Linked DNA regions of Homo sapiens. The protein of the gene in region 1 purifies or fractionates together with the protein of each later gene. This does not show direct contact. Each region holds a gene or a part of one and is shown in the gene's direction. Other genes may lie near its edges.

Region 1 (8,147 bases):
AGAGTGCAATGGTGTGATCTCGGCTCACTGCAACCTCTGCCTCCAGGGTTCAAGCAATTCTCCTGCCTTACCTTCCTGAGTAGCTGGGATTACATGTGTTGCCACCATGCCCAGCTAATTGTGTATTTTTAGTAAAAACAGGGTTTCTCCATGTTGGTCAGGCTGGTCTCCAACTCCTGACCTCAGGTGATCTGCCGCCTTGGCGTCCCAAAGTATTGGGATTACAGGTGTGAACCACCGCACACGGCCTGTTTTTTTTTTTTTTTTTTTTAATTTTAATTTTAAATTTTTTATTTGAGATGGAGTCTCCCTCTTTCGCCCAGGCTAGAGTGCAATGGCATGATCTCGGCTCACTGCAATCTCCGCCTCCTGGGTTCAAGCAATTCTCTTGCCTCAGCCTCCTGAGTAGCTGGGACTACAGGCGGGAGACACCATGCCCAGCCAATTTTTTTTTTTTTTTTTTTGAGACAGAGTCTCTCTCTGCCACCCAGGCTGGAGTGCAGTGGCACCATCCCTGCTCACTGCAAGCCCTGCCTCCCGGGTTCATGCCATTCTCCTGCCTCAGCCTCCCAAGTAGCTGGGACTACAGGCACCCGCCACCACGCCCAGCTAATTTTTTGTATTTTCAGTAGAGACAGGGTTTCACCATGTTAGCCAGGATGGTCTGGATCTCCTGACCTCGTGATCTGCCGGCCTCCGCCTCCCAAAGTACTGGGATTACAGGCGTGAGCCACCGCGCCCAGCCGGCTAGTTTTTGTATCTTTAGTAAACACGGGGTTCCACCATGTTAGCCACGCTAGTCTCAAATCCTGACCTCAGGTGATTCGCCCGCCTCAGCCTCCCAAAATGCTGGGATTACAGGCGTGAACCACCGTGCCCGGCCTATTTTATTTTTTTTACTGTGATAAAATATAGCAAATTTTGCCATTTTAACTGATTTTAAGTACACAGTTCAGGGGCATTAAGTGTATTTACATTATTGTACAACCTCACCACCGTCTACCTCCAGAACTTTTCCATCCAAACAAAGTAAAGCTCCATCCCCATTAAACACTCACACACATTCTCCCCTTCCCAGCCCTGGCAGTCACCCTTCTTTCTTTTCTTTCTCTTTTTTTTTTTTGAGAGAGAGTTTGGCTCTGTCGCCCAGGCTGGAGTGCAGTGGCATGATCTCAGCTCACTGCAGCCTCAACCTCCCAGGTTCAAGTGATTCTCCTGCCTCAGCCTCCCGAATAGCTGGGACTACAGGGGTATGCCGCCAGCCTGGCTTAAGTTTTGTATTTTGTTGTTTGTTTGAGTCGGAGTTTCGCTCTTGTTGTCCAGGCTGGAGTGCAATGGCGTGATCTCGGCTCACTGCAACCTCCACCTGCCAGGTTCAAGAGTCGCCTGCCTCAGCCTCCTGAATAGGTGGGATTACAGGCATGTGCCACCATGCCTGGCTAATTTTGTATTTTTTTTTTTTTTTTTTGAGATGGAGTCTCGTTCTGTCGCCCAGGCTGGAGTGCAGTGGTGCAATCTCGGCTCACTGCAAGCTCCGCCTCCCAGGTTCAAGAGTCGCCTGCCTCAGCCTCCTGAGTAGCTGGGATTACAGGCATGTGCCACCACGCCCGGCTAATTTTGTATTTTTTTTTTTTTTTTGAGACGGAGTCTTGCTATGTTGGCCAGGCTGGAGTGCAGTGGTGCAATCTCGGCTCACTGCAAGCTTCGCCTCCCGGGTTCACGCCATTCTCCTGCCTCAGCCTCCCGAGTAGCTGGGACTACAGGCGCCCGCCACCACACCCGGCTAATTATTTTTATTTTTAGTAGAGACGGGGTTTCACCGTGTTAGCCAGGATGGTCTCGATCTCCTGACCTCGTGATCCGCCCGCCTCAGCCTCCCAAAGTGCTGGGATTACAGGCATAAGCCACCACGCCCTGCTGGCTAATTTTGTATTTTTAGTAAAGATGGGGTTTCTCCATGTTGGTCAGGCTGGTCTGGAACTCCCGACCTCAGGTGATCCGCCTGCCTTGGCCCTACAAAGTACTAGGATTACAGGCATGAGCCACTGGGTGCCAGGCATGTATTTTTTTTAACTTATTTAATTTTTTGTTTTTTTTTTTAGACAGAGTCTCGTTCTGTTGCCCAGGCTGGAATGCTATGGTGCGATCTCGGCTCACTGCAACCTCTGCCTTCCGGGTTCAAGCAGTTCTCCCGCCTTCGCCTCCTGAGTAGCTGGGATTACAGGCTCCTGCCACTATGCCCAGCTAAGTTTTGTACCTTTTAGTAGACAGGTTTTCACCATGTTGGCCAGGCTGGTCTTATACTCCCAACCTCAGGTGATCCGCCCGCCTTGGCCTCCCAAAGTACTGGGATTAGAGGTATGAGCCACTGTGCCCGGCCTGTATTTTTTTTATTTATTTTAAAATTTTTTGTTATTACTATTTTTGAGACAGAGTCTAGCTCTGTCGCCTAGGCTAGAGTGCAATGGCGTGATCTCAGCTCACTGTAACCTCTGCCTCCGGGGTTCAAGCAATTCTCCCGCCTCAGACTTCTGAGCAGCTGGGACCCCGCCACCATGCCTGGCTAATTTTTGTATTTTTTAGTAGAGATGGGGTTTCACCATGTTGGCTAGGCTGGTCTCGAAGTCCTGACCTTAGGTGATCTGCCCGCCTCGGCCTCCCAAAACCCTTTTACTTTCTGTCTCCATGAATTTGACTGGCTGGGGTCCTCACATCAGTCAGATCACACCGTCCTTGCCCTTTTGCGTCTGGCTGCTTTCGTTCATCACAGTCTCCTCCAGGTGCATCCAAGTCACGGTGCAGGCCGGTTTCCTTCCTTTTTCTGGCTGAATCGTGTTCCACTGTGGATGAACCACGATGTGTTCACTCATGCGCGTTTGGATACTTGAGTTGCTTCCATCTTTTGAATAGTGCTGCCATTGAACGTGGGCTTTTTTTTGTTGTTGTTTTTTTCTTTTTAGAGTCAGGGTCTTGCCAGGTTGCCCGGGCTGGAGTGCGTGATGCGATCGTGGCTCACTGCAGCCTCCACCTCCTGGGCTCAAGCAATTCTGCCTCAGCCTCCCGAGTCGCTGGGACTACAGGCACCCACCACCACTCAGGGTGCCTTAATTTGTTTTTGTGTTTTTAGTGGAGCTCGGGTTTCACCATGTTGCCCAGGCTGGTCTTAAACTCCTGACTTTAAGTGATCCCCCCGCCCCGGCCTCCCACAGCGCTGGGATTACAGGTGTGAGCCAGCGTGACCAGCCGGTGTTGTTTTTAAGATGGGCCAGTTGCAGTGAGCTTGTTGGATGACAGAGTGGGCCTGAGGGGCAGGAGAGTGCAACCCGTCTGCTCTGGGGAAGCCGGCCTTAGGCTGGGGCATGGGCAGGTGAAACCCTCAACAGCTGCTCCTGGGCTACGGAAGAGAGTTTCTGCTGGGAGGGGTGGGGTCACATGAATGGAGGGAATGGAGGAGGCCTGTAGCCCAGCACTGAGGCCTACTGGGGAGGCAGCTCAGGAAGGCCACAGAGTCAGGCCCAGGCCAAGACCTTTGCCCAGAAGCTAAAGTAGGCCCTTGAGCCTATTTTAGCATGGGTGGCCTCCAGCCAGCCCATTGGTCCTGGGGTGGTGTGGGAGGGAAAGGGCCAGTTTGGGTCCGCAGCATCTTCAGGCTGTGTGTAGAGCAGCCCCCTCATGGTCCTGGGACCCAGAAATCATCTGCACCCCCAGCAGGCTCTGCACCCCCGGCAGGATCTGCACCCCCGGCAGGCTCCCCTAAGGGCCCCCAGAAGGATACCACTGCGGGTGGGCCCAGCCAGAGGAGCACCATGAGATCCGCTTGGTGGGGTGAGGCCGGCAGGGGAAGCACCCTGACCCCAGGACACTGGGCTCAATGCCCGCCCTGCCCCGTCCCACCCTGTGTATGGCGGGACAGAGTCCTTGGGCCTCAGGCACCCAGCTCCCCACCCCAGCCCCACCCACAATGCTCAGGGTCAGGCTGGCTGGACCGGGCGGGAGGTGGCATCTGGACTCCCCCTTCAGAAGGCAAAGCTGCCCTGAGATCTGCCTTCCCCTTCCCCCAGACTTCCTGCCATCACCACCACGGTAGAGATAAGGCCTCTAGGCTCAAAGGCCAGAGAGGGAGCCCACAGAGAGGGCAGGGCTGGGAGCCACAGCCTCCCTGCCCCCGGGGCTAGAGCTGGGGTCTTGCCCCAATCTTATCCTGACCCAAGCTCGGCCAGGTGGCTGCCAGGGCCCAGCTCCGTCTTCCTGTTTGTCTGTGTTGGAGCTTCCTGGGGCTGTCTCCGGCCTAAGGGAGCATGATGCAGCAGGCACCTTTTCAGTTTCTTTGACTCCATCGCAGTCCCCAACAGGGACCACAGCCCAGGACCCAGGAGGAGGGAGGTCCATGTCCCCACCCCCAACAGGGGCCACCGAGGGTGTCTGGGCAGCCTCTGTTGGGAGGGGCAGAGGCAGGGACCTGGGAGCTCTCAGGCTCTGGGGGCATCTGTGCACCTCTGCCCTGTGTCCCCCAGCTTGGAGGCAGCCCCCAGATGGACAGCCAGAAGGGGACACCCCAGCCCTGCCCCACAGCTTGGGGGGCAGCAGGCAGAGGACAGAAGCCCACCCAGGCTGGCCTGGCGTGGTGAGCCACGCCGGTAATCCCAGCACTTTGGGAGGCCAAGGCGGGCGAATCACCTGAGGTTGGGAGTTCAAGACCAGCCTGACCAACATGGAGAAACACTGTCTCTACTAAAAATACAAAAGTAACCGGGCGTGGTGGCGCTGCCTGTAATCCCAGCTACTCGGGAGGCTGAGGCAGGAGAAGCACTTGAACCCGGGAGGCGGAGGTTGCCGTGAGCCAAGATCACGCCATTGCACTCCAGCCTGGGCAGCAAGAGCAAAACTCCAACTCGAAAAAAAAAAGACCACCGAGGCTGCCTGTCCAGGGGAAGGGGCCCAGCCCTCGACCCCCACAGGCAGTGGCTCCAGGCTGTTGGGGAGGATCTGCCACTGGAATGGTTAACCCAGGCATCTCCAGCAGCCAATCACAGAGCTCTGCAGGAATACCTGGGAGAGGTCCTCATGCAGCCCGGGCGGGTCCTAGCCCAGCCCCAGTCTGGCCCTGGACAACCCCAGCAAAGCCGCCCTCAGCCAGCCCAGAAGCACTGGGCCTTGGCCACAGCAACACCCACTGAGCACGCTGGGAGCTGAGTATGGCGTCCCTGGTCTCGCTGGAGCTGGGGCTGCTTCTGGCTGTGCTGGTGGTGACGGCGACGGCGTCCCCGCCTGCTGGTCTGCTGAGCCTGCTCACCTCTGGCCAGGGCGCTCTGGATCAAGAGGCTCTGGGCGGCCTGTTAAATACGCTGGCGGACCGTGTGCACTGCGCCAACGGGCCGTGTGGAAAGGTAACAGCCCCACCCGACGGGTCCCCCAGCCCTGGCCTCTTCCCGCCAGCTCCGCCCTGCCAGCCGGCAGCAAAGGGCCCTGGGCAAACTCCAGGAGGCGGAGGAGGCTAGTGGCAGTACCTGGGCACCCTGACCCTCCCCACAGGCCAGAGCCCACCCTCCTGCTCATGAGGGCAGACAGGCCTTTCCAGGGACACAGTCCCTCTTCTCCCCAGGACCCCAGGGCCAACTCCCCCTGCCGGCCCTCTGCCATCAAATTGGCAGTGGCTCCAGGGGAGTCCCCTGGGGATGGGGGACCACTGTTGGGGACCCCTCTGCGTGCACCCCTGTAGTTGGGGAAGCAGGACAGGGGCCTGGGGAGACGGAAGGGCGCCAGGGGTTGAGAGAGGATGGTGGACGTTGTTGGACTTGAAAGGGAAACAGGCCCTCGGGGAAGCCCCTGGCCAGGCCTGCCTCTCCCCTCCCTGGTGGGCCCAGCGCCCCTGCTCACTTGTCTCTGCCCACAGTGCCTGTCTGTGGAGGACGCCCTGGGCCTGGGCGAGCCTGAGGGGTCAGGGCTGCCCCCGGGCCCGGTCCTGGAGGCCAGGTACGTCGCCCGCCTCAGTGCCGCCGCCGTCCTGTACCTCAGCAACCCCGAGGGCACCTGTGAGGACGCTCGGGCTGGCCTCTGGGCCTCTCATGCAGACCACCTCCTGGCCCTGCTCGAGAGCCCCAAGGCCCTGACCCCGGGCCTGAGCTGGCTGCTGCAGAGGATGCAGGCCCGGGCTGCCGGCCAGACCCCCAAGATGGTGAGGGAGAGTCCAGGCAGACCAGGGGAGTGGGTGAGGAGGGTCCCACGGCCCATGGGACCCGGCCTGGCTGCAAAGCCTTCGGGGAGCCTGGGGGCCTGGGGAGACGCCCAGGAGTCGGCCTGCGGCTGGGGATTCACAACGTGGGGCTCACTACTGGGCAGTTGGGAGCCTGTAGGAGCCCCGGGAGGGACCTCATGAGGGAGGAACCCAGAGGCCTGAGTGGGAGCCTGAAGCAGCTGGGCCCGGCAGGGAGGGCTGTGGCTCCAGGGAGGGGCGGGGCTGGTGGGGGCAGATCCTGTAGTTGGGGTGGGAGATGCATCCAGGGGCAGCGGGGTGGATGGCAGAAGGTCACACCAAAGGCTGAGGCGGAGGCCCCCTCTTCCCCAGGCCTGCGTAGATATCCCTCAGCTGCTGGAGGAGGCGGTGGGGGCGGGGGCTCCGGGCAGTGCTGGCGGCGTCCTGGCTGCCCTGCTGGACCATGTCAGGAGCGGGTCTTGCTTCCACGCCTTGCCGAGCCCTCAGTACTTCGTGGACTTTGTGTTCCAGCAGCACAGCAGCGAGGTCCCTATGACGCTGGCCGGTGAGGCCTGGGCTGGGCTGTGGAGGGGGGCACCCCCGAGTCCCCAGCCTCCACGTCCCTGGGGGGCAGGGCCGGAGCCCACACAGACTCGCGGTGCCAACTCTTCTCCCTGCCAGAGCTGTCAGCCTTGATGCAGCGCCTGGGGGTGGGCAGGGAGGCCCACAGTGACCACAGTCATCGGCACAGGGGAGCCAGCAGCCGGGACCCTGTGCCCCTCATCAGCTCCAGCAACAGCTCCAGTGTGTGGGACACGGTGAGCTGCGCCCTGGGGTAAGATGGGGCCTCACCGGGGTCTGCTTGGGCCCCTGAGCCTGTCCTGCCACCCCCCAGGTATGCCTGAGTGCCAGGGACGTGATGGCTGCATATGGACTGTCGGAACAGGCTGGGGTGACCCCGGAGGCCTGGGCCCAACTGAGCCCTGCCCTGCTCCAACAGCAGCTGAGTGGAGCCTGCACCTCCCAGTCCAGGCCCCCCGTCCAGGACCAGCTCAGCCAGTCAGAGAGTGAGTGCCCACGCCGACATTGTGCTGGCAGCACAGAGGTGGAGCCCGTGTAGGAAGGAAGGAGTGGCTGCCCAGGATGAGGGATGGAGAGAGTGAGCAGGGGCTGGAAGTAGAAACAACAGACACAGGGGAAGGTGGCGTCGCCAGGAGAGTGGGGCTTTGAGGCAGGAGGGTCAGCCTGAGTGAGGGCCTGGCCCACACTGACGGCCTGCAGCTCTGGTGAGCAGCGCCCGGGAAGCAGGGGCTGAGTCTGGAAGAAAAGCTCTCACAGCCGCCTCACCCGCCCCCAGGGTATCTGTACGGCTCCCTGGCCACGCTGCTCATCTGCCTCTGCGCGGTCTTTGGCCTCCTGCTGCTGACCTGCACTGGCTGCAGGGGGGTCACCCACTACATCCTGCAGACCTTCCTGAGCCTGGCAGTGGGTGCAGTCACTGGGGACGCTGTCCTGCATCTGACGCCCAAGGTCTGCCCCCACAAACCCGCGACCCTGGCCCTCCGTTCCCCACCATGGACTCCCAGGCCGTGCCCTCCCAGGGACCTTACCCACCCCACCTCCTGACCCCTCTCCCTGGGTCTTGGTGGGAGGCGCCCTGGGACCTCCCCCCCAGCCCAGCGCCCCTACTCCCCAGGTGCTGGGGCTGCATACACACAGCGAAGAGGGCCTCAGCCCACAGCCCACCTGGCGCCTCCTGGCTATGCTGGCCGGGCTCTACGCCTTCTTCCTGTTTGAGAACCTCTTCAATCTCCTGCTGCCCAGGGACCCGGAGGTCAGGCTTCTTGGGAAGGTACCCGGCGGGTGGGTGTGCTGGGGGCCTGGTGGACACTGAGCACCTACCCTCACAGGACCTGGAGGACGGGCCCTGCGGCCACAGCAGCCATAGCCACGG
Region 2 (7,271 bases), on another chromosome or scaffold:
ATCACTGAGCCCAGGAGTTTGAGACCAGCTTGAGCAACATAGTGAGACCCCATCTCTACAAAAATAGAAAAAATTAGCTGGGCGTGGTGGCACACACCTGTAGTCCCAGCTACTTGGGAAGCTGAAGTGGGAGGATCACTTGAGCCCAGGAAGTTGGGGAAGCTGAGGTGGGAGGATCACTTGAGCCCAGGAGTTGAGGCTGGGATCACACCACTAGGCAGCTATTTCAGCCTGGGTGACAGAGTGAGTGTGTCAGCCTGAGCAACAGAGTGAGACCCTGTCTCAAGAAAAAAAAAAAAGGAAAGAAAAGAAATGCAGTGGTGGAGCCCAGGTATTGATATTTTAAAAAGTGTCAGGCTGGGCACGGTGGCTCATGCCTGTAATCCCAGCACTTTGGGAGGCCGAGGCGGGCGGATCACAAGGTCAGGAGATCAAGACCATCCTGGCTAATGGGGGAACTTCGTCTCTACTAAAACTACAAAAAATTAGCCAGGTGTGGTGGCAGGTGCCTGTAGTCCCAGCTACTCGGGAGGCTGAGGCAGGAGAATGGCATGAACCTGGGAGGCGGAGCTTGCAGTGAACCTAGATCACGCCACTGCACTCCAGCCTGGGCAACAGAGAGAGACTCCATCTCAAAAAAAAAAAAAAAAAAAAAGTGTCCCAGGTGATGCTGATGCCCCTTGAGTGTTGAGGACCACTGGAACAGAAGGACCCAGATGTTAGAAAATGTTATCCCTTTCCTTTGGAGTAGGATGAGGGGGATGTAATTTATCCTTTTTTCTTTTTTTTTTTTAATCAGAGTCTCGCTCTGTCGCCCAGGCTGGAGTGCAGTGGTGTCATCTTGGCTCACTGCAAGCTCCGCCTCATGGGTTCAAGCTTTTCTCCTGTCTCAGCCTCTTGAGTAGCTGGGACTACAGGCATGTGCCACCATGCCTGGCTGCTTTTGTATTTTTAGTAGAGATGGAGTTTCACCACGTTGGCCAGGCTGGTCTCAAATTCCTGACTTCAGGCCATCTACCTGCCTTGGCCTCCCAAAGTGCTGGGATTACAGGCATGAGCCACTGCACCCGACCAATTTATACTCTACTGTGTGTAGTTTCCTATTTTTTCCTTAGCAAAAGCCATTTGGAAAAGTCCCTGCCACCCCCTCTTGTATTTGTACTTTTATATTTTAAAAACAAGGTTAGCTGGGCACGGTGGCTCATGCCTATATTCCCAGCACTTTGGGAGAACGAGGCAGACGGATCACCTGAGGTTGGGAGTTCCAGACCAGCCTGACCAACATGGAGAAACCCCGTCTCTACTAAAAATACAAAATTAGCTGGCCGTGGTGGTGCATGCCTGTAATCCCAGCTACTCGGGAAGCTGAGGCAGGAGAATCGCTTTAACCCGGGAGGCAGAGGTTGTAGTGAGCTGAGATCACACCATTGCACTCCAGCCTGGAAAACAAGAGCGAAACTCCGTCTCAAAAAAAAAAAAAAAAAAATCATTGAGGCTGGGTGCACTGGCTCATACCTGTAATCCCAGTACTTTGAGGGGCCCAGATGGGAGGATCACTTGAGGTCAGGAATTTGAGGCCAACCTAGGCAATAGTGAGACCCTGTCTGTACAAAAATTGTTTTAAAAAATTAGCTGGGCATGGTGGCCCATGTCTGTAGTCCCAGCTACTTGAGAGGTTGAGGGCAGGAGGATTATTTGAGCCCAAGAGTTTGAGGCTTCAGTGAGCCACAATTGCGTGACTGACTCCACCCTGGGCGACAGAGACCCTGTCTCTAAAATAAATAAACAAAAATTTTAAAAAGTTTAAGAGTCAAAAAAGAGACTCTTGTGATCAAGAGTCTCTTGAGTATATTCAGTGCTTGCTGATATCAGCTGATAATTGAAAGAAAAACGTGGTTTCCCCTTTCATCCTGAGAGGCCAGAAGCTGGTAAGACATGAGCACAGGTCAGAATTTCCACCCGTGGGAATTCTGGGGGTGCTTTATTTTAGATGATTCGGCTAGATTGCTTCTTTATCCCCTGGCAGGCCCCCATACTAGTAGCTAGCTGTTAAGAAAAAAGAAGCCTTTTGGTGACCCACCTGAAAAGACCATAGGGTGAGGATCAGTTCTCCCATGTTCTCACTGGTGAGAATTGGGTTTTGCAGGTGAATCCTTGGTGGTATCCTCTTCCTTACCCGTCCCTTGTCTTTTTTGCCCACCATCCCCTTTCCTCCTCTGTTGCTAGACACCCCTGGTGTAAAAGGCTCTCTGTGCTCAAAGGCTGTTTGTTGCAGTGCAGCCACGCTCACTCTGATAAGGTTCTGTTTTATCTGGCTTGGGAAAAGCCATTTGGAAAAGTCTACTTTCCTTGTTCCTAGAGACCAGTGCTTGCATCCAGGCAGACCTGGCTTTGAATTGAAGCCCATTAACAAAATTTATGGCATCTTTCTTCTAAGCTGTATTTTTGTGCACTCTGTAGCTCTCACACAGAGGCACTGTTTTTCCTAACATGAGGTGTACAATGCAGCAGTTGCACAGATACGGTCCCTAAAGTGAGAAATGAATGTTCGAAAGAAGGTGCTCTCGTTTGGCATGGAGTGAATGCCTTGTTTCCACCTCAAATCCTAAGATGGAACACATTTTTCCTGGTGACTTCAGGCAGATGGCACACCTCCCACTTCCGTTGTGTGTCATGAAGGAGGAGACACTTCTATAGCCAGGGCTGTGCCTGAATAATGATGTACATGGGGGGGAGTTCACATTCACCTCCAGAATGGGTTTCCTGCTTTGCTTGAGAAATGCTTTAATTGGGTGTCATTAGTAATCCTGTCAAGGGTAAAAAAAACCTCCCTTGTTAGGAATCAAAGCAAAAAGCTCTCTCTGAGGAGTAATGAGGAATATACTCTTTCTAATATGATGCGGAAGCACTTAATATTTGTTATTGGTGTTTACAGAAATGATTACTTCTCAAACATTGCTGCTTACAGAAATGATTAATTCTCAAACTATGCCGGGAAGGTGAGTATGGTAATGATTTTACAAGGGAGGAATCTGAAGTGTAAGAGGAATCATGTCTTGCCCCAGGTCTCGAGCTAATCTGTGGCAGGTTTCGGGGCGGTGCCTGCTCCTCCGAGCCTGTCCTGGGAACTGGCCACACTGCCCTGGGTTCACAGCACCATGGGCTCTGTGCGTGCCGTTCACATACTCTTCTCCCTTGACAGCTTTGCACGTCAAGGAGAAGCTACCAGCCCACGCTTCTTGGCAAGACTCCTTTCCTCTTGGTTGTAAGGATGATACGGTCTGCTTCGGAGATGATAAAACTAGTATTGATGTTTATTTATTTGCTTTTACTTGGCAGATTCTCAGCGCTGATTTTGAGATGATGGGCTTGGGAAACGGGCGTCGCAGCATGAAGTCGCCGCCCCTCGTGCTGGCCGCCCTGGTGGCCTGCATCATCGTCTTGGGCTTCAACTACTGGATTGCGAGCTCCCGGAGCGTGGACCTCCAGGTGTTTTGTTTTCTTTATTGTTATGTTTATTTTATGTTTATGTTTTGTTTATTTTGTTATGATGGGGTCCCAGGGGTTTGTTGTTTATTGCCAGCCAGGGCGTTTTGTGCAGGGCACACGCTTGTAAGGTGAGTTTAGGGCTCTGCACACCCCCACAGCCCTGGGCCAGACCCCAAGCAGCTTTGGGTGGGAGAGGTCCCCTCTGTGGTTGTGTAGGATTGCGGTTGTGGTATCCCTCCCTGCCTTTCCTGTGAGTTAACAGCATTCATTTGAGCTACTGGGGTGGTTCTGGGAAGACAGCTTGCTTACATACACTGGCCATAGTCCGTTGTTTGCGGTCCTCCGGCGCCCAAGATATCGAAGAGTAGTATTGGAAGTGTGCTTGGATGATGGGTGTAAGAAATATGTTTTTAAAGGTACCAATCTTTATCTTCATTACTTAATGATAATAATAATTTTAACTTCCTCATTTACCGGTGCAGTCATGGGTCAGGTGCAGTGCTGAGCAGTGACAAAGATGCTCCTCTTGATTGAACTTGAGTCGGGCCCTTCTGAGCCGTCTTCTTGACTAGGCCTTGATCTTGGCACCTCCCAACTCTCACTGCCTGTCTTTGGCCTGCCCAGCCCAGTCCTAGCAAAGGATCCCGCTAAGCCATCCTTCTACCCCTGATCCTTGACCAAGTTCCTCATCCCTACCCTTGCTGTCTAAGTCCTTGGCCTGTGTTTAGCAAGAATCTTGTTAGGCCAGTTTAGCAAGAATCCCCCTACTCTGGGGGCGATTTCCATCCACTGACTCCCCGCACTGTGCTCGTTGGCTATAAATCCCTAGCTGTCTTTGATGTGTTCGGCATTGAGCACAATTTCCCTCTCCTATTGCAATCGTTTTGAATAGTCTTTCTTACCATTTTAATGAATGTCAGAATAATTTCTCTTTCACAGTACTTTATACAAATTATCTCCTTTTGTGCACAAACCCTACAAGGCTGGGACTTGACTTTCCTCATTTCACAGGGGGTCAGACTGAGGCACCAAGAGGTTGAGGTGGAGCAGGGATTCCAACCTGCATGGGCTTAGCCGTGGCACCCCAGCACGTCTGTGCTCTGTCCTGTTCTCACACTTACCCTCCTGGGCTTGTACTCCCTGTGTCTCAGCTTCCACGGGAGTTCCTGTTCTCTGGGCAGATGAGGTCTGCTTGTCTGGAGTTGGAGAACTGAATCTGTTTTCAGAAATTGTATCTGCTAAAGAGTTGTTAAGTGCTTTGTTAGCAGCGAAGAAGAACTAAATATTTGAGCATCATCTTATGCCAGGTAAAGCATGAGGCATTCTGTGCACTTAGCACATTTAAGCCTCACAAAAACCCAGTGGGAAGTGTGGTGTGAGTGCACAGAGCCTTCCTTCACTTACACTGACAGAGACCATTTTTTCCAGAAGAAACCGCTCCAGCTTCTGTCCAGTTGACTTAAAACACAGCCTTGGGCACTTGTGTGTATAAGACTGGTGCTGGCCCTGGGCCCCAAGGTGGTCTTTGTGGAGGGCGCTCAGGTGGTCCAGGCTCCTCAGGTAACTTGGCATCAGCCCTAATGCCACGGTCTCCTTGTAGACACGGATCATGGAGCTGGAAGGCAGGGTCCGCAGGGCGGCTGCAGAGAGAGGCGCCGTGGAGCTGAAGAAGAACGAGTTCCAGGGAGAGCTGGAGAAGCAGCGGGAGCAGCTTGACAAAATCCAGTCCAGCCACAACTTCCAGCTGGAGAGCGTCAACAAGCTGTACCAGGACGAAAAGGCAAGGCCTGCTTTGTTTCCTCTCAGTTCTTTTCTAAGGGATGGTGTCTACATTGTCTGTTTCTTCTTGGCGGGAGGATGAGCAAGCGGCTGGGTTTAGATTTATGTAATTATGTGGAAAGAGCCTATTGATCAAGCTTTGGGCATTCTCTCCCTTTCCCCTCCAAGTCCCTGGCTGGGCTTGCGGTGAAGCCTTTTGCAGTGGTAATAAACAGGAGAAATGCAGAAGAACAATTTCAGATTCATCCTCCTATTGGCTTTTTTTTTTCTCCTATTGGGTTTTTTCTTCCCACTTTCCACAAACATGTATTAAATACCTACTCTGTGCCAGGCCTATGCCAGGTGCTTATATCTCAGAGAAAAATAATATTTGTGCCCTCCAAGTATCTAATGGAGGAGAGGAGAGGCAGACTCTACTAAATACTAACAGAGAAAGTAGGGGACTGCACCCTTGCTTTTAAGCTAGGAAAAAAACCAACAAATCCTGCGTAGATTTAAAGGGGCCTTCCTGCTAATTAAAATATCTAAGCTTTATGTGTCTTTTTTTTTTTTTTTGAGATGGAGTTTGGCTCTGTCGCCCAGGCTGGAGTGCAATGGTGCAATCTTGGCTCACTCTGCCTCCCGGGTTCAAGCGATTCTCCTGCCTCAGCCTCCTGAGTAGCTGCGATTACAGGTGCCTGCCACCACGCCCAGCTAATTTTTATATTTTTAGTAGAGATGGGGTTTTCACCATTTTGGCCAGGATGGTTTCGATCTCTTGACCTCGTGATCCACCTGCCTCAGCCTCCCAGAGTGCTAGGATTACAGGCATGAGCCACCGTGCCCGGCCTGGTTTTCTTATGTAGGAATATATGACTATACTTTCTTTATTAAATTGTGTAACTGTGTGAGTTACTAATATCTCCTGTCCCAGAGTGCATCAAACTTTGGCCTCTATTATTAACTAGAAAAATTTGGCTTTTTTTTTTTTTTTTTTTTTTTTTTTTTTTTTGAGATGGGGTTTCCCTCTTGTTGTCCAGGCTGGAGTGCAATGGCGCCCTCTTGGCTCACTGCAACCTCTGCTTCCCGGGTTCAAGCAATTCTCCTGCCTCAGCCTCCCAAGTAGCTGGGACTACAGGCATGTGCCACCACGCCCAGCTAATTTTTTGTATTTTTTAGTAGTGATGGGATTTCGCCATGTTGGTCAGGTTGGTCTCGAACTCCTGACCTCAGGTGATGTACCCGTCTTGGCCTCCCAAAGTGCTGAGATTACAGGCATGAGCCACCGCACCTGGCCTGAAAAATTTGGCTTTTATAATGCGTGTACCTCTCTCTCTGGAGTGGCTAATTTATTGGAAGAATGTTGTAGCTCAACTTCCATTATCTTGAATTGTCTCAGAAAATGAATTATTTCCAGGAAGGGACTCAGACTTTTCTCGCATAACTGATTTAAAATTCAAGAAGTACTTTTTTTGTTGTTTAATTTGCAGAGTACTTTCCTATATTTGCAAGCTCATATTTCTTCTCTGGGAATTGTGCATAATGTTGTTGTAATAAAGTGCTTCTTTATGTTTCTTCCCTTTTCTTACTGGTGAGATATGCTTTTTGTGCTCCTGAAATCCCCTTTAACCTCATCTCTCAAAAAGAAAAAGAAAAAAAAGAGCATCAAGTAGTTATTTGAAAAGAGAATCTGTTTCCACAGTTTTTCTCTTTTAGAATATGCGATATAAATGTCTTTTCATTTTGGTGAGCAAGGGTGGGTTCTCACATCAAACCTTAGCTGCAGGAGGATTTTAGCTGTGGTTTGGTGGTAGGAGGCATGGAACTTGTGAGTCAGGCAGACCCGGGTTTAAAGTTCCCTCAGCTGTGTGATTTTAGGCAAGTCACTTAAATTCTCTGGATCTGTTTTCTCAACTGTCAAGTGGAAATGAGAAAGGAATCTCACAGGGTGCCTGTGAGGATTGAATGAGATAATATTTATAAAGCGTTTAACCCAGTGCTCAACCTAGAATGAAAGCTCAGCA
Region 3 (7,973 bases), on another chromosome or scaffold:
ATTCACTGTAATCACACAGTACAGGTGAGTTGCCAAAAGCTTCGATCCTAACCTCTTCAGAGGAATTTACAAAGCACTCCTGCCCCACGTGGATTCCACGCCTTTGCTGTGCATGCTTCACTGAGCTGCTTGCTTCATCTTCAGCCACAGTCCTGACACCCTACCCTTGACATGATGAGCTGCAGGCTTGAGTCGAAAGAACAAGAATGTACCAATAAGGGTCAAATGACACCCCTAATCAGCTTACAAACTCCGACCAGAGAGCCTTTGTTTTGATTCTTGTGCTATCGTGTACCCGTTCCTGCTGTCCACATGGGCTCCCTCCTTTGCCACCCTTAGAGAGGGACAAGCACCCACAGGTGGAATTGCTCTTGAAGTAATCCCAACAGCTCTCAATTTGCATCAAAAGAAGTCCCTTTTGAATTCAATACCTGTTAGCCACGAAACCTATTAAGAGTCTATTCAGAGGGCCAGATTTTACCTCTTGGTTCAGTCACACCTCCATCAAGAGCCTTCTGTGTCTTTCTTGTGGGCAGGACTTAAACTTTTGTTATTCTCTTGGCATTAATACACAGCCCTTTCTTGCTTTGCTGTGGTATTTTATTAATCCAATCACATCTAACTGGCTTGTTTTATTCTTTTCCAAACACACCTTAGAGCATTTTTTGTTTTGTTTTTTGTCTTTATTTATTTCTTTTTTTGCTTTTTTCAGAGGCCCAGGAACTTGATCCTAATTTCTAAAGAGGCAGTGAAGAGCCGGGCATAGTGACTCATGCCTGTAATCCCAGCACTTTAGGAGGCCGAGGCAGGCGGATTACCAGAGGTCAGGAGTTTGAGACCAGCCTGGCCAATGTGGTGAAACCCCTTTTCTACTAAAAATACAAAATTAGCCAGGCGTGGTGGTGGGCGCCTGTAATCCCAGCTACTCAGGGGGCTGAGGCAGGAGAATTGCTTGAACCTGGGAGGTGGAGGTTGCAGTGAGCCCACTCCAGTCTGGGCAACAAAGTGAGACTCTGTCTCAAAAAAAAAAAAAAAAAAGAGGCAGTGAAGTTATTCTTATTTTCAAGTGAGAAGAGAAGGTCATAGAAATGCAAAGCAATAATTCATATATATATGAAATGTATATGTTATATAAACATATATATATATATATTTAGAGTAGGTCATCTTTTTTGTTGTTGTTGTTGTGATGGCAATATAGGTCCAGGTGATCCTTCTGCTAATATTCATTCCCCATTGTACTTTTAAGAGCTATAGACTTTTTTTTTCTTTTCTTTCTTTTTTTTTTTTTGAGACAGAGTCTTGCTCTGTTGCCCAGGCTGGAGTGCAGTGGTGTGATCTCTGCTCACTGCAACCTCCGCCTCCTGGGTTCAAGCCATTCTCCTGCCTCAGCCTCCCCAGTAGCTGGGATTCCAGGCACCCACCACCACACACAGCTAATTTTTGTGTTTTCAGTAGAGATGAAGTGTCACCATGTTGGCCAGGCTGGTCTTGAACTCCTGACCTCAGGTGATCCACCCACCTCAGCCTCCCAAAGTGCTGGGATTACAGGCTTTCTTTTTTTTCTTGATACAGGGTCTCACTCTGTTGCCCAGGCTTGAGTGCAGTGGCCCAATCACAGCTCACTGAAGCTTTGACCTGCCGGGCTCAGGGAATCCTTCCACTTTAGCCTCCCAAGTATCTGGGACTACAGGCACACACCACCACACCCAGCTAATTTTTACATTTTTAGTTTTTGTACAGATGGAGTCTCCCAGTGTTGCACAGGTTGGTCTCAAACTCCTGGCCTCAAATGATCTTCCCACCTTGGCTTCCCAAAGTGTTGGGATTACAGGCGTGAGCCACCACACCTGGCCAAGTTTTGTTTTTTAATCAGCTACACTTGAGTTATTTTTCTATTGACTGGAGGCCTTAGAGAGCAATGGCAGAAAAAGGCAGTGGGATGCCATGCCAGGGAAGGCAGGAAGGGAAGGCCAGTCTGACATTTCCTGGCCCTTGCAGCAGCAGGGGTTTTCTGGAAAGTGGGTAAGAGAAAGATGAAGCTTAGGTCTAGGTTAAAATTGTCACTTTCTCTCCAACTGGGAGAGTGTCGTTCATTGATGTTTCTTCAGCTGGGCTCAAAGAAGAGGTAGCAGGATGCATGATGAGGCATGATCCTACTTCTTTTCAGAAGTCACTGAATAACATATTTGCTAAAAGGAACATGCTTAGTCATAAATATCAGTGGAGCTGATTTCACACTACACCACCAATTCTAGAACTTCTGCACTGATGAGAAACTAGCTTGAATTGTCGTCACCCTGGGGGCAGGAAAGTGGGGGGGCGGGGGTAGGGAGGCGAGACTCCATGTCCTCTGGGTTTAAGAGGTTGGACTTTAGAGGATTACATGCTTACTGCTCATTTCACAGGCACATTTAAGGCCCGACTTAACCCCACACTTTCTATTATCGATCCTTCCCCCACCTCACTCCTTACCTACCAGGACCATATACTTAAGGCACTCTACTAGGGACAAAATTTAAAGATGTGCTAAAAAGTCTCAGTAATCAAATCATGCAAAATTTATTTTAATTGAAAATTTTTAAGTCAGTTTTTATGAGGTGACTTCTGAAAAGAAATGGGATCGTTTTCATTGTGCATCTTGCTACCTCCTCTTTGTGTTTTTTTTGTTTTTATTTTGTTTTGAAAAGATGCAGTCTTGGTGTGTCGCCCAGGCTAGAGTGCATGGAGTGCAGTGACGTGATCTCAGCTCACTGCAACCTCCACCTCCTGGATTCAACCGATTATGCTCCCTCAGCGTCCCAAGTAGCTGAGACTACAGGCATGCACCACCAAGCCCAGCTAATTTTTGTATTTTCAGTAGGGATGGAGTTTCACCATGTTGGCCAGGCTGGTCTCAAACTCCAGACCTGGAGTGATCCGCCCGCCTCGGCCTCCTAGAATGTTGGGATTACAGGTGTGAGCCACCGCCTGGCCGCTACCTCCTCTTTTTTTTTCTTTTCTTTTTTTTTTTTGAGACGGAGTCTTGCTCTGTCTCCCAGGCTGGAGTGCGGTGTGGCACCATCTCAGCTCACTGCAACCTCCGCCTCCCGGGTTCAAGCAATTCTCCTGCCTCAGCCTCCTGCGTAGCTGGGATTACAGGCACGCTCCACCACACCTGGCTAATTTTTGTATTTTTAGTAGGGACGGGGTTTCACCACGTCGGTCAGGCTGGTCTCGAACTCCTGACCTCGTGATTCGCCCGCCTCAGCCTCCCAAAATGTTGGGATTACAGGTGTGAGCCACCGCGCCCGGCCGCTACCTCCTTTTTGAGCCCAACTAAAGAAACATCAAGGATTGATACCCTCCCAGTTGAAGAGAAAGTGACAACTTTAACCCAAATCTCACCTTCCTCTTACTTTCTCTTTCCCATTTTCCAGCTGCCAAACTAAGGGCAGCTGCTGTCAGTTTTTGTAAATAAAGTTTCCAGGGCTGGGATTAGAGCGAGAGAAGAGAGGCAGGATTGTGAAAGGTCAGGAGTGGATACTCAATCAAAATTTTTTATATTTTGTTCATTACGGATTTTTTAAATTAATTTTGATTTTTAAAAATATTGCACTAAAATGTTTATGTTGATTATTGAGGTTTTTTTATTTTGTGAACCCATAAAATTTGCAACTGACAGTACCCTGTCCAGGTCCAGTAAAAATACCTAGGAGTCTACAAAAATCTACCCACGACTCACTGGACCTCAGGTACATATCCCCCCCCGCCCCCATGAAGTCTCCATAAAGTGTCCCAGTGAGTTTTAATGTTCTCTCCTGTCTTTCCATGCACGTGTATTAAGATGCATTGCCTTCTGATTAGTGTTTTCCACTTCGAACAGCGGGAATGCCTCGACCACGCCTGTCTTCAAATTTCTGCTCTAGTTAAGAAACGATCTCAGGCCGGGCACGGTGGCTCACGCCTGCAATCCCAGCACTTTGGGAGGCTGACGCGGGCGGATCACCTGAGGTCAGGAGTTCGAAAAGAGCCTGACCAACATGGTAAAACCCCGTCTCTACTAAAAATACAAAATCAGCCGGGTGTGGTGGCGTATGCCTGTAATCCCAGCTACTTGGGAGGCTGAGAAGGGAGAATCACTTGAACCTGGGAGGCAGAGGTTGCAGTGAGCCGAGATCGTCTCAAGAAAAAAAAAAAAAAGAAAAAAAAGAAACGATCTCTTCCCTTCTCAAAGTTATATACATTTCACTATTCGCCAACCACCTCCTCCACGCCGTCCAGAGCTGAGCTGACACGCAGCGAAGTCCTCTCAGTGGTCCCTCCGCACCTCAGCCCTGTGCTTGGCAGCGAGACGAGTGACAGGGCCGCCCCAGCATGGGTCTCCCGGGCCGCGGACCCGCCCCACGCCGTATCCAGCACGCTGTCCTCCCGCCCCATCTTTGTGCCGGCCATCGTGTGGTCGCGTCTGCGCGCTCCGCCCGGTCTGCCGGCGTGAGAAAGAGCTCGTGTCGTTCCCAAGTTCAGACCAGAGGGGACGGCGAAGCGCGAAAAAGTTCCCTGCGCCCAGTACGCAGGCGCAGCCGTGCTCCTGGGCTTCCCGGGCCTCGTCCCAGCTGGCGCGCCCGGCGCTCCTCCGCCAGCGGGCAGTTGGGGGCGCTGCAGGGAGGGCACCCGAGCGGGTTGGGGGCGCTCGGAAGGGTGGCTTGCAAGGTCCGGGTAGCTGCAGTCCCCGGAGTGGGGCGGAGAGGCGCGGCACCGCGCGGACGAGGATGGGGCGGGGGCGGGCGCAGCCCGAGGGTGCAGGCACGATAAGGCGGGTGACAGCCAGCGGGGAGGGGCGGGCGCCACCGCGTCCACGCCCTTTGCTCGGGGCCGGGCCGGGAGGGTCCTCGGGCTTTGCGCGCGCCTGGCCGGCGGGCTGAGGCGTACGGGTCGCACGCAGCGCCATGCGAGGCCCCCCTGCCTGGCCGCTGCGGCTGCTCGAGCCACCGAGCCCTGCCGAGCCAGGTCGGCTCCTGCCGGTAGCCTGCGTGTGGGCCGCGGCCAGCCGCGTTCCCGGGTCCCTATCGCCGTTCACTGGCCTGAGGCCGGCGCGGCTATGGGGCGCGGGGCCCGCGCTGCTCTGGGGCGTTGGAGCCGCGCGCCGCTGGAGGAGCGGCTGCCGGGGCGGGGGTCCGGGCGCCTCGCGGGGCGTCCTGGGCCTCGCGCGGCTCCTGGGGCTGTGGGCTCGCGGCCCCGGCAGCTGCAGGTGCGGGGCTTTTGCCGGGCCAGGCGCTCCTCGGCTCCCGCGCGCCCGGTTCCCGGGCGGTCCCGCAGCCGCTGCCTGGGCAGGGGACGAGGCCTGGCGGCGCGGGCCGGCGGCGCCTCCCGGGGACAAGGGGCGGCTGCGCCCCGCAGCGGCCGGACTCCCGGAGGCCCGGAAGCTCCTGGGGCTGGCGTACCCTGAGCGCCGGAGGCTGGCAGGTAGGGTCCTCCCCGGCCACTTCCCTCCGCCGGGCCTCTCCTTCTCCACACGCGGGGTCCCGGGGCGCCGAGAGGGACACGGCCGGGCCGCAGAGCGCGTGTCACCGCCGCCTCTCCTGGGCCACTCCTAACCCCGGAGGAGGGAGGGGATCGCTCACCTCAGAGTAGCGTTGTCAAGATTTCGCCTTAGCTGGGGACTCGTTTGCAGATTTTACACTTGTTTTCTTGTTGACACACGTTATATATGTCATTATTGGAATCTTTGGGTCTGTTCCACCACCAACTTAGTGGGAGCATCTGTTTTGGCTTAGGCAGCAAAATGAGCTGGAGGTTTTTCCTTGGAAAAAAAAATTCTAGCCAAAAATATGCCTATTTTGTTATTAGGCGTTTATACTTTTTTTTTTTAACCAAAAACACATTATTTGCTTCAAGCGAGTCTGTCAAGCAGTCACCAATGCTTTCACAGCGGAAAGCAAAACTTTCAGACTTGTCTCTTGTGCAGGAAGTTACAGCACTGTGTTCAACAGGCCACACCAGTGATCTGTTCAGTAATTGAGTAACTTTTTTAAAAGAAGCCAAAATGAATGTTTTTAGAAACAAAATTTAAATAGGACAGTTTTCTATAGCTCCTCATTTTTTAGCCATAATTGGAGGAGTGTTTAGATGCAAGGGCCTTGTAAGATCTAAAATTTTTTCGATTTCTCTAAATCTTCACTCCTTCTATAAACATCTGTTGAGCCCTCATTCTGGACTGGGCCCTGGGTTTACAGTGGCATGCACAAGGAAACATGGTCCTCACTTCTGCTGGGGCTTCTAGGTTAGTGGGGAGAAGCATCTATGAAATATTCGTATGTATAGAGGTAAACCTGCACCTGTGGGCTGTGGAAGGGGGCCTGTGGGGCCTGTGAGGTTGTCAGGTGCAACACCAGAAAAGCATTCTTTGCTGCAAATCCATTGCTTTAGAAAGGACCCTCCTGGGTAGTGATTTGGGATTTAGAGTAGGTTTGCACAGTGGAGGAGAGCAGTTAGGGTGGCGACTTTTCATCTACCAGTTGCTATGAAAGCTTAGGGGGCTGTTGATATCACTCGGGTGTAAAGAGAATTATTTCATTGTTCAGTTGGTTGAGTGTAGATTTTGTTGTAAAATATCTTTTTCTCTTTCCTCTTTTTAAAAACATTGGAGACTAGGAGCTCTCACTGGACTTTGAGCTGCTTGAGACGGGGACTGTGCGATTCATCTTTCTGTCTCTAGTTCTTAGCATGTGCACGGCACAGAGCAGGCGCTCAGAGTGCCTTCAGTGAAGGAATAAATGACCATACCACCAGGCACAGAGTGAGGCCTTTAGAAACCCTGAGCATCATCGGGTGCGCCCACCACTTCTGTATGTGACTCAAAGTAAGTGTAAGGAAATCCAGTTCTGTTTTGTTTCTGAAATACTAGATGTCAGGAAGGGTGTTTAGGTGTCAGGCTTTGGTGGCCTACACGTGCCCAGTCCTCTTATGCCATGACCATTGTTCCTGTGACCCCTCACTCTGTCCCCAGATATCCTGCCATGCTAGTATGTTTTGGTGACAGCCTTAAACAAGACGAGACTGCCTCCTTTTTTCTTTCTTCTTTTGTTTTTCTGGGATAGGGGTCTCACTGTGTTGCTGAGACTTGTGTTGAACTCCTCAGCTCAAGCAGCTCTGCCTCTACCTCCTGAGTAGTTGGGACTACAGGCATGTGCCACCACACCCAGCTCGTACCTTTTTTTTTTTTTTTTGAGATGGAGTTTTGCTCTTGTTGCCCAGGCTGGAGTGCAATGGCGTGATCTCACCTCACCGCAACCTCCGCCTCCCGGGTTCAAGCGATCTTCCTGCCTCAGCCTCCCAAGTAGCTGGGATTACAGGCATGTGCCATCATACCCGGCTAATTTTGTATTTTTGGAGACAGAGTTTCTCCATGTTGGTCAGGGTGGTCTCGAACTCCCGACCTCGGGTGATCTGCCCACCTTGGCCTTCCAAAGGTGCTGGGATTACAGGTGTGAGCCACTGCACCCGGCCTTCTTTTTATTTTAAGAACAGAATATATTTTGTTCCACCACATTGAGAAATTATGAATATATAATTTGAAGAAACAAGCCTAGGGTTGGCACACTATTTTTTTTTTTTTTTTTGCTTTTCAAACAGATAAATACATATTGTATGTTATGAGGATAAGGATATCTGATAAAAAGCCCTTATTTAGATGTATGATTTCCTGAGAAGTTATTATATATTAAAGCCAGTTAGGATTAAGAGGAAGTGGTGGTCATTGTTAATTTGTAATTAAAAAAAAATGTGTAATTTATCATTCTAAGAGCAGCCTGAGGTGTTGGCACATCTCTTTGAAATGCTGGAGGTAAAGAGCAATTGCGTGTGTGTATTTTCTAATCAAAACACTAAAAAAGCTGAGCTGAAAAGGAATTCCAATGTTAATTTGTTAATTTTTAGAAAAATACAAAAATCTTTTTTCAAAAATGCAGCTTTATATTTTAATAATAATACCT
Region 4 (7,944 bases), on another chromosome or scaffold:
TTAATAAGCCCCCCTTGTGTGCCAGGGACTGGAATACAGTGAGCTTAGACTCCTGTGGGGAAGATAGCCATGAAATGTATAATGACACAGCTAATTAATTATGATGTTAAGTACTATGAAAAATAAGTATAGCTAGCTACAAAGTGAGTAACAGGAACCTCAGTCTGTGGGGTTAAGAGTTTCCTGTAACAGAGCTGTTTATATACAGTGCAGCACTAACTCATATGCCCAGCCTGCCTGGGTTCAAATTCTGACTCAATCTTGAGCAGATTATTGAACCTCATTTTCCTCATGTATAAAGTGGAGCTAGGTCTGGCTTAGTGACTCACACCTATGTGAACCCAAAATATCTGAGACAGGTCTCAATCAATTTAGAAAGTTTATTTTGCCAAGGTCAAGGACATGACACAGCCTTAGGAGGTCCTGATGACACGTGCCCAAGGTGGTTGTGGCACAGCTTGGTTTTTCTTTTTTTTTTTTTTTTTGAGACAGAGTTTCGCTCTTGTTGCTCAGGCTGGAGGCAATGGCGTGATCTCGGCTCACCGCAACCTCTGCCTCCCGGGTTCAAGCAATTTTCCTCTCTCAGCCTCCTGAATAGCTGGGATTACAGGTGTATGTCACCATGCCCAGCTAATTTTTGTTTTTTTTTTTCTTTTTGAGATGGAGTTCCGTTCTTGTTGCCCAGGCTGGAGTGCAGTGGCGCAATCTCAGCTCACCACAACCTCCGCCTCCCGGGTTCAAGCGATTCTTCTCCCTTGGCCTCCTGAGTAGTTGGGATTACTGGTATACGCCACCAAGTCTGGCTAATTTTGTATTTTTAGTAGAGACGGGGTTTCTCCATGTTGGTCAGGCTGGTCTTGAACTCCCGACCTCAGGTGATCCACCTGCCTTGGCCTCCCAAAGTGCTGGGATTACAGGCATGGACCACTGCGCCAAGCCTAAGTTTTATATTTTTAGTAGAGACGGGGTTTCATCATATTGGTCAGGCTAGTCTTGAACTCCTGACCTCAGGTGATTTGCCTGCCTCAGCTTCCCAAAGTGCTGGGATTACAGGTGTGAGTCACTGTGCCCAGCCCACAGCCTTTTGTTTGTTTGTTTTTTGAGACACAGTCTCACTCTGTTGCCCAGGCTGGAGTGCAATGGTGTGATCTCAGCTCACTGCAACCTCCGCCTCCCAAGTTAAAGTGATTCTCCTGCCTCAGCCTCCTGAGTAGCTGCAGCTGGGATTATAGGCACGCACCACCATGCCCGGCTAATTTTTGTATTTTTAGAAGAGATGGGGTTTCACCATGTTGGCCAGGATGGTCTTGATCTCCTGACCTCGTGATTCGCCCGCCTCGGCCTCCCAAAGTGCTGGGATTACAGGCGTGAGCCACCGCGCCCAGTCGGAAACCTGAAAGGTTTTATAAAGAGAAATGACAAGCTTAGATTTGCAATTTTAAAAGCTCTCTCTGGTTACATACAACATGGAGAACTGGTTGGAGGGAGGACAAAACATATGGCAGGGAAACCAGTAAAGAGGCTGCTGTAGAAGTGGGGACCAGAGGCTTGCAGCTTAGCCTAGGGTGGTGGCAGAGAAGATAGAAGGAAGCTGGCTGATTGAAGAACAGCTAGAAGATAGAACCAACAAGATGCATGTGTGTGTGTGTGTGTGTGTGCGTGTGCACGCGCGTGTGTGTGTGTGTGTGTGTGTGTGTGTGTGTGTGTAGCGGGGGAAAGGGGGAAGAGGCCTAAACACTAAATAAATATCTCAGGAAAGGGCTGGGTGCAGTGGCTCAAGTCTGTAATCCCAGCACTTTGGGAGATCAAGGCAGGGGAATTGCTTGAGTCTAGGAGTTCAAGATCAGCCTGGCTAACGTGGCAAATCTCTATCTCTACTAAAAACACAAAAATTAGCTGGGCGTGGCGGCATGCGCCTGTAATCCCAGCTACTTGGGAGGCTGAGGTGAGAGGACCACTTGAGCCCAGGAGATCAAGGCTGCAGTGAGCCATGATGGGGCCACTGCACTCTAGCCTGGGCGACACAGCGAGACCCTATGAAAGAAAGAAAGAGAGAAAGAGAAAGAAAGAGAGGAAGGAAAGAAAGAAAAGGAAGGAAAGGAAGGAAGAGAAAGAAAGAAAAGTCTGAGGAATGACCTGTGTTCCTGCCACATTCTTTCATTGCATGAAATGCCTTCCCCTCTACTCCATCCTTTCAGACACAGTTCCTTCCTATTTTCTCCACAAAATTCTGATTTTGTCTCCTTTCCAAGAGAGTTCCAGAATTTTAGAGCTGAACATTCTTGAGTAGTTGACATGACTCAGAAGCTACCTGAAGATGGCTGGGCACGTTGGCTCACGCCTGTAATCCCAGCACTTTGCGAAGCTGAGGTGGGCAGATCACCTGAGTTCAGGAGTTCGAGACTAGCCTGGCCAACATGGTGAAACCGCGTCTCTACTAAGAATACAAAAATTGGACTGGGTGTGATGGCTCACACCTCTAATCCCAGCACTTTGGGAGGCCGAGGTGGGAGGATCACGAGGTCAGGAGATCAAGACCATCCTGGCTAACATGGTGAAACCCCGTTTCTACTGAAAATACAAAAAATTAGCCAGGTGTGGTGGTGGGCACCTGCAGTCCCAGCTACTCGGGAGGCTGATGCAGGAGAATGGTGTGAATCCGGGAGGCGGAAGTTGCAGTGAGCCGAGATTGCGCCACTGCACTCCAGCCTGGGCAACAGAGCGAGACTCCGTGTCAAAAAAAAAAAAAAAGAATACAAAAGTTGTCTGGGCATGGTGGCGGGCGCCTGTAAACCCAGCTACTTGGGAGGCTGAGGCAGGAGAATCACTTGAATCCGGGAGATGAAGGTTGCAGTGAGCTGAAATTGCGCCACTGCACTCCAGCCTGGGTGACAGAGTGAGACTCTGTCTCCAAAAAAAAAAAAAACAAAAAAAAAAACTACCTGAATATGAAGACCATGTCTTAGTCAACTTTTTTTTTTTTTTTTTTTTTTTTGAGACAGTCTCACTCTGTTGCCCAGGCTGGAGTGCAGTGGTGCGATCTTGGCTCACCTCAACCTCCGCCTCCTGGGTTAAAGCGATTCTCCTGCCTCAGCCTCCCGAGTAGCTGGGATTACAGGCGCCCACCACCACATCCGGCTAATTTTTGTATTCTTAGTAGAGATGAGGTTTCACCATGTTGTCCAGGCTGGTCTCGAACTCCTGACCTCGGGTAATCAGCCCGCTTCGGCCTCCCAAAGTGCTGGGATTACAGGCATGAGCCACGGCGCCCAGCCGTCTTAGTCAACTTTCTATCCCGTCCACCCCATCTACCCAACACTTGTGAAGATCCAGGGCCATCTTTTAAAACTTTTCCTCTGACTGCACGAGTGGTACAGTCATTAATAACCTGTGCTAATATAAAGCTCTGTGACCCATAAAGCATTATACAGATGTGGGAGCTTTCACAGCTGTATTCTCTTTGGATCCTCAAAGATTTCTTATAAAGTAGGTACTATTATAAGGGAAATAAACTCAGAGCTAAAGTGACATATCCAAGGTAACATTCACTAAAACAAACGTCAATGCCAAGATTGAACCTATATCCAGGGAACCCACATGGGATGCTCTACCACCTTCCATGAAGAATAAATATTCATATATATCCAAGAGGACTGTTAATTCTTGGAGGCAGTTAAGTACCACTTCTGGGAATCCTTCTTAGTTTCAAGTATGAATCTATTCAAACATGTTTACTGAACACCTACTATGTGCTAAGTAAGGCACCTAGTGTTGGAGGTGCAGCAATGAACAAGGCAGAGAAGATGCTTACCCTCATTCTAGTTCAGGGAGCTGTCAAACAAGGACACAAATACATAAACACTGTAAGTGACAGATGCTACAAAGAAAATACAAGGCCGGGTGCAGTGGCTCACGCCTGTAATCCCAGCACTTTGGGAGGCCAAGGCTGGCGGATCACTTGAGGCCAGGAGTTGAAGACCAGCCTGACCAACATAGTGAGATCCCGTCTCTACTAAAAATACAAAAATTAGCCGGGCGTGGTGGCGGACGCCTGTAATCCCAGATACTCGGGAGGCTGAGGCAGGAGAATCGCTTGAACCCGGGAGGCGGAGGCTGCAGTGAGCCAAGATCGCGCCACTGCACTCCAGCCGGGGCGACAGAGCAAAACTGTCACAAAAACAAAACAACAAAACAAAACAAAACAGAGTAACATGAGAATAAGTGTGAAGTGTGTCCTTTTCGCCGGCACTGCTTCAGATAGGGTGGTCACAGAAATCCTCTCAGAATAGTAACATTTAAGTTGAGACAGAGCTTGGTCTTCGGTAGGTGCTTAACGAAAACCATTTTCCCACAAACTTAGTTCTGGAAACGACAAAGAGAGGAAAAAGTGTACTCAGTCCGCACAGGGGCCGCTCCCAGGCCTCCAACCTTCGCCGCCAGACTGACTGGAAAGTGGACAGTTCCCGGCCTATCCACGCCGGCACCATTAGAGGGCGCCGCGGGTCCTCCTAGCCCCAGGCACTGGCAAACTGACATCTGCTACCTAACAGTCGAGGCTCCGACGCCCCGAGTCCAGGCAGAGGGCAAGGGCGGCGCTGGGAAGCCCTGAGGCCCTAAGGAATCGCGGAGGGTCACTGGGCGCCTCAAGGACAGGGTGCCCTCCGCGTCGCAAACCCACACCAGTGGCATAAGAACTCGCTCCCTCTGGGACACCCTGTTTCCGGCGCCTTTAAACCTGGAAGTACTGCTGTGTCCAATCCTGGCCCTCCTTCCGCACTTAGTCTTTGAGTCCTTCCCTCTCCTGGCTTGTGCTGGAGCCAAGCAGGCTATGGCTACCAATCAGCGCTCAGAAAAGACGCATGCGTCTTCGAACGAACGCGACGTACGGTTAACTTTGACCCAAAGACAACCTCTTCTCTCCCGCTTCTCTCGCTGTGAAGATGGCGCTCTCCAGGGTGTGCTGGGCTCGGTCGGCTGTGTGGGGCTCGGCAGTCACCCCTGGACATTTTGTCACCCGGAGGCTGCAACTTGGTCGCTCTGGCCTGGCTTGGGGGGCCCCTCGGTGAGGGACCTGTAGCGAGAAAAGCATTTTTGACGTCCAGGCTCTTTCAGTGTCTCAACCTTGCTTGCATTCTGTCTCTTAATTCTCAGAGTTCCACGCCTTGGCCCTGGAATTTTTATTCTTCTGTTCAGGATTCAAACTCCGATCCCCACTAGTGACCCGGCTTCCTGACCCTCTGTACTCTCAGTGCCCCATATTGTCTGGTTTCCCCGCGTGTCCTGAGCTCATCTTTCAGCCTCACTTTTTCGGCTCAGGTTTTACCGCTGCTATCTCGATTCCACCTCTTTCTGACTTAGCCTGCAGTTCAAATTGTCCCACAGGCATTGCGCTCTCTCCAGAGGCATACCCTGAGTTACTTTCCTGCCTGGCCTTTGCCTGATTTGTGTTTCACAGTCTGATTGCCTATCTCTTCTTGACCCCAAGACCTTCCTTGGATTTCAGAAGTGTCAAGCCTTGGGATACAATCTCCGAGACTCCTGCTTTACATTAGGGACTCAAGGCGTGAGGGAGCTTCTAGGACTGATTCCCAGATAGTCTCTTTGATCTTCCTTGTAGGTCTTCAAAGCTTCACCTTTCTCCAAAGGCAGATGTGAAGAACTTGATGTCTTATGTGGTAACCAAGACAAAAGCGATTAATGGGAAATACCATCGTTTCTTGGGTCGTCATTTCCCCCGCTTCTATGTCCTGTACACAATCTTCATGAAAGGTAAAAACGAAACTACAATAGAAATTCCGGAATCAGCTCTTGGGCAGGGTCAAAGAGTTAGCATAAATAAGATCATTTGCAGGTTCTGCTATGGGGATGTGAGCCGAGATATCTTATATTTCATAAATGCCTGCGCCTTAAACTAATTCCTATAAATTAGCACTTCTTGAGAATGTTTCTAGAAAGATGTTATGAGAAACAACTTATGACAGCAACATGAGGGAGGGAGAATATAGGTATGTTCTCGTACTTTCTTAACCACACACCTGGCTATAGTAGAAATTTTTTGCCTTGCACACGGCAGGGATCTGTGGCTGTATAGACCTGCCCTGTGATGTATCAGTTGACTTACCCATAGGAAAATGAGGTCTAACCCTTGTTATGAATCTATATTAGGTAGTATGTTGTAGTGGCAATAGCCCTACATAATACTTGGTTTCTAAATGTTTTGTTTCAAATCAGAGATCCTTAGTTACTAGGAGAAGATATGTATCGTGTCAAGTGTCTACTCTGGAGCCAGATTGCCTGATTCAAATCCCAGTTCGTCACTGTGCGATTGGACTAATTAATTAACCCCTCTTTCCTTGGTTTTCTTATGTGTAAAATGGGAGTAATGGAACCTACCTATTTATCACATGATTGTGAAGACTTTAAAAATTGATACATGTAAAGTACCTAGAACAGGTCCTGATCCCTAGTAAGTGCCAAGTAAATGTTAACTTATTTTCATCTAAATGTTACCTAACAGTATTATAAGTTGGTGCAAAAGTAATTGCGGCTTTTGGCTTTCAGTGGCAAAAACCACAATTGCTTTTGCACCAAATCTATAATATGCTCTATGCTTTTATCATAACACTATAATAAACTACATTGTCAAATCTGAACATTATCATAATTATTACTAGCTTCATGGACTTGAAAAATTACTTATCCTTAATTTGTAGAGATAAAATTGGCTGCTTTTTCTGTTTTCATGTAGATAAATAGGATCAAATGAGAGAAAGGGATGAAAGCATTTGTGTTTGTTTTTAAACTTTTTATTATGAATTTTTTTTTTTTTTGAGTCTCACCGTGTCGCCCAGGCTGGAGTGCAATGGCATGATCTCGGTTCACTGCAACCTCTGCTTCCCGGATTCAAGCAATTCTCCTGCCTTAGCCTCCCAAGTAGCTGGGAATACAGGCGCCTGCCACCACACCAGGCTAATTTTTTTATTTTTAGTAGAGGTGGGGTTTCACCATATTGGCCAGGCTGGTCTCTAACTCCTGACCTCGTGATCCGCCTGCCTCGGCTTCCCAAAGTGCTGGGATTACAGGCTTGAGCCACCGCGCCCGGCCAACTATTATGGAAATTTTTAAACACACACAGATGTAGAGAGAGTAGTGTAACAAACTTCCATGTATTAACCTCACTTCATTATCATAACTCATGGCTGCCAATCCTATTTATATACTTGCCTTATGTATTATTTTGAAGACAATCGAGACATCATATAATGACATGTAAATCATTGATAAATATGAAAGCATTAAAGAAATAGATGCAAGAAGCCGGGCGCGGTGGCTCATGCCTGTAACCCCAGCACTTTGGGAGGCCGGGGCGGGCGGATCATCTGAGGTCGGGCGTTTGAGACCAGCCTGACCAACATAGAGAAGCACCGTCTCTACTAAAAATACAAAATCAGCCAGGTATAGTGGCACATGCCTGTAATCCCAGCTACTAGGGAGGCTGAGGCAGGAGAATCTCTTGAACCTGGGAGACGGAGGTTGTGGTGAGCCAAGATCGCACCATTGCACTCCAGCCTGGGCAACAACAGTGAAACTCCCATCTCAAAAAAAAAAAGAAAAGAAAAAAATTAGATGCAAGAATTTTCATAAAATGAAAATTTAAAATGTAATCATAAAAATATATTGAACTAAACTACTTTAAAAAGTGTTCCAGGCTGGGCACGGTGGCTCACGCCTGTAATCCTAGCACTTTGGGAGGCCAAGGCGGGCGGATCATGAGGTCAGGAGTTTGAGACCAGCCTGGCCAACATGGTGAAACCCAGTCTCTATTAAAAATACAAAAATTAGCCAGGTGTGGTGATGGGCACCTATAATCCCAGCTACTCGGAAGGCTGAGGCAGGAGAATTGCTTGAACTCAGGAGGTGGACGTTGCAGTGAGCCGAGATTGC

What was found.
Region 2: the proteins of SLC39A4 (region 1) and GOLM1 purify together in Homo sapiens (affinity purification with mass spectrometry; 5 studies listed by BioGRID and IntAct, with this or other methods). This does not show direct contact.
Region 3: the proteins of SLC39A4 (region 1) and ABCB10 purify together in Homo sapiens (affinity purification with mass spectrometry; 5 studies listed by BioGRID and IntAct, with this or other methods). This does not show direct contact.
Region 4: the proteins of SLC39A4 (region 1) and LETMD1 purify together in Homo sapiens (affinity purification with mass spectrometry; 5 studies listed by BioGRID and IntAct, with this or other methods). This does not show direct contact.

Annotation. Positions count from the first base shown.
Region 1 is NC_000008.11:144,413,838-144,421,984, reverse strand, and holds the start of SLC39A4 (zinc transporter ZIP4 isoform 2 precursor), read left to right. Parts: upstream 1-5,140; 5' UTR 5,141-5,195; coding exon 5,196-5,387; exon of another isoform or gene 5,388-5,776; coding exon of another isoform or gene 5,777-5,893; coding exon 5,894-6,175; exon of another isoform or gene 6,176-6,565; coding exon 6,566-6,758; exon of another isoform or gene 6,759-6,874; coding exon 6,875-7,011; exon of another isoform or gene 7,012-7,088; coding exon 7,089-7,260; exon of another isoform or gene 7,261-7,363; intron 7,364-7,550; coding exon 7,551-7,723; intron 7,724-7,889; coding exon 7,890-8,027; exon of another isoform or gene 8,028-8,029; intron 8,030-8,103; coding exon 8,104-8,147. UniProt on the Homo sapiens protein: Selective transporter that mediates the uptake of Zn(2+). Plays an essential role for dietary zinc uptake from small intestine. The Zn(2+) uniporter activity is regulated by zinc availability.
Region 2 is NC_000009.12:86,075,410-86,082,680, reverse strand, and holds part of GOLM1 (Golgi membrane protein 1), read left to right. Parts: intron 1-3,339; 5' UTR 3,340-3,360; coding exon 3,361-3,489; intron 3,490-5,089; coding exon 5,090-5,269; intron 5,270-7,271.
Region 3 is NC_000001.11:229,555,608-229,563,580, reverse strand, and holds the start of ABCB10 (ATP-binding cassette sub-family B member 10, mitochondrial), read left to right. Parts: upstream 1-4,873; 5' UTR 4,874-4,928; coding exon 4,929-5,445; intron 5,446-5,518; exon of another isoform or gene 5,519-6,841; intron 6,842-7,973.
Region 4 is NC_000012.12:51,043,417-51,051,360, forward strand, and holds the start of LETMD1 (LETM1 domain-containing protein 1), read left to right. Parts: upstream 1-4,910; 5' UTR 4,911-4,940; coding exon 4,941-5,062; exon of another isoform or gene 5,063-5,596; coding exon of another isoform or gene 5,597-5,617; coding exon 5,618-5,769; intron 5,770-7,944. UniProt on the Homo sapiens protein: Plays an essential role for mitochondrial structure and function, as well as thermogenesis of brown adipocytes.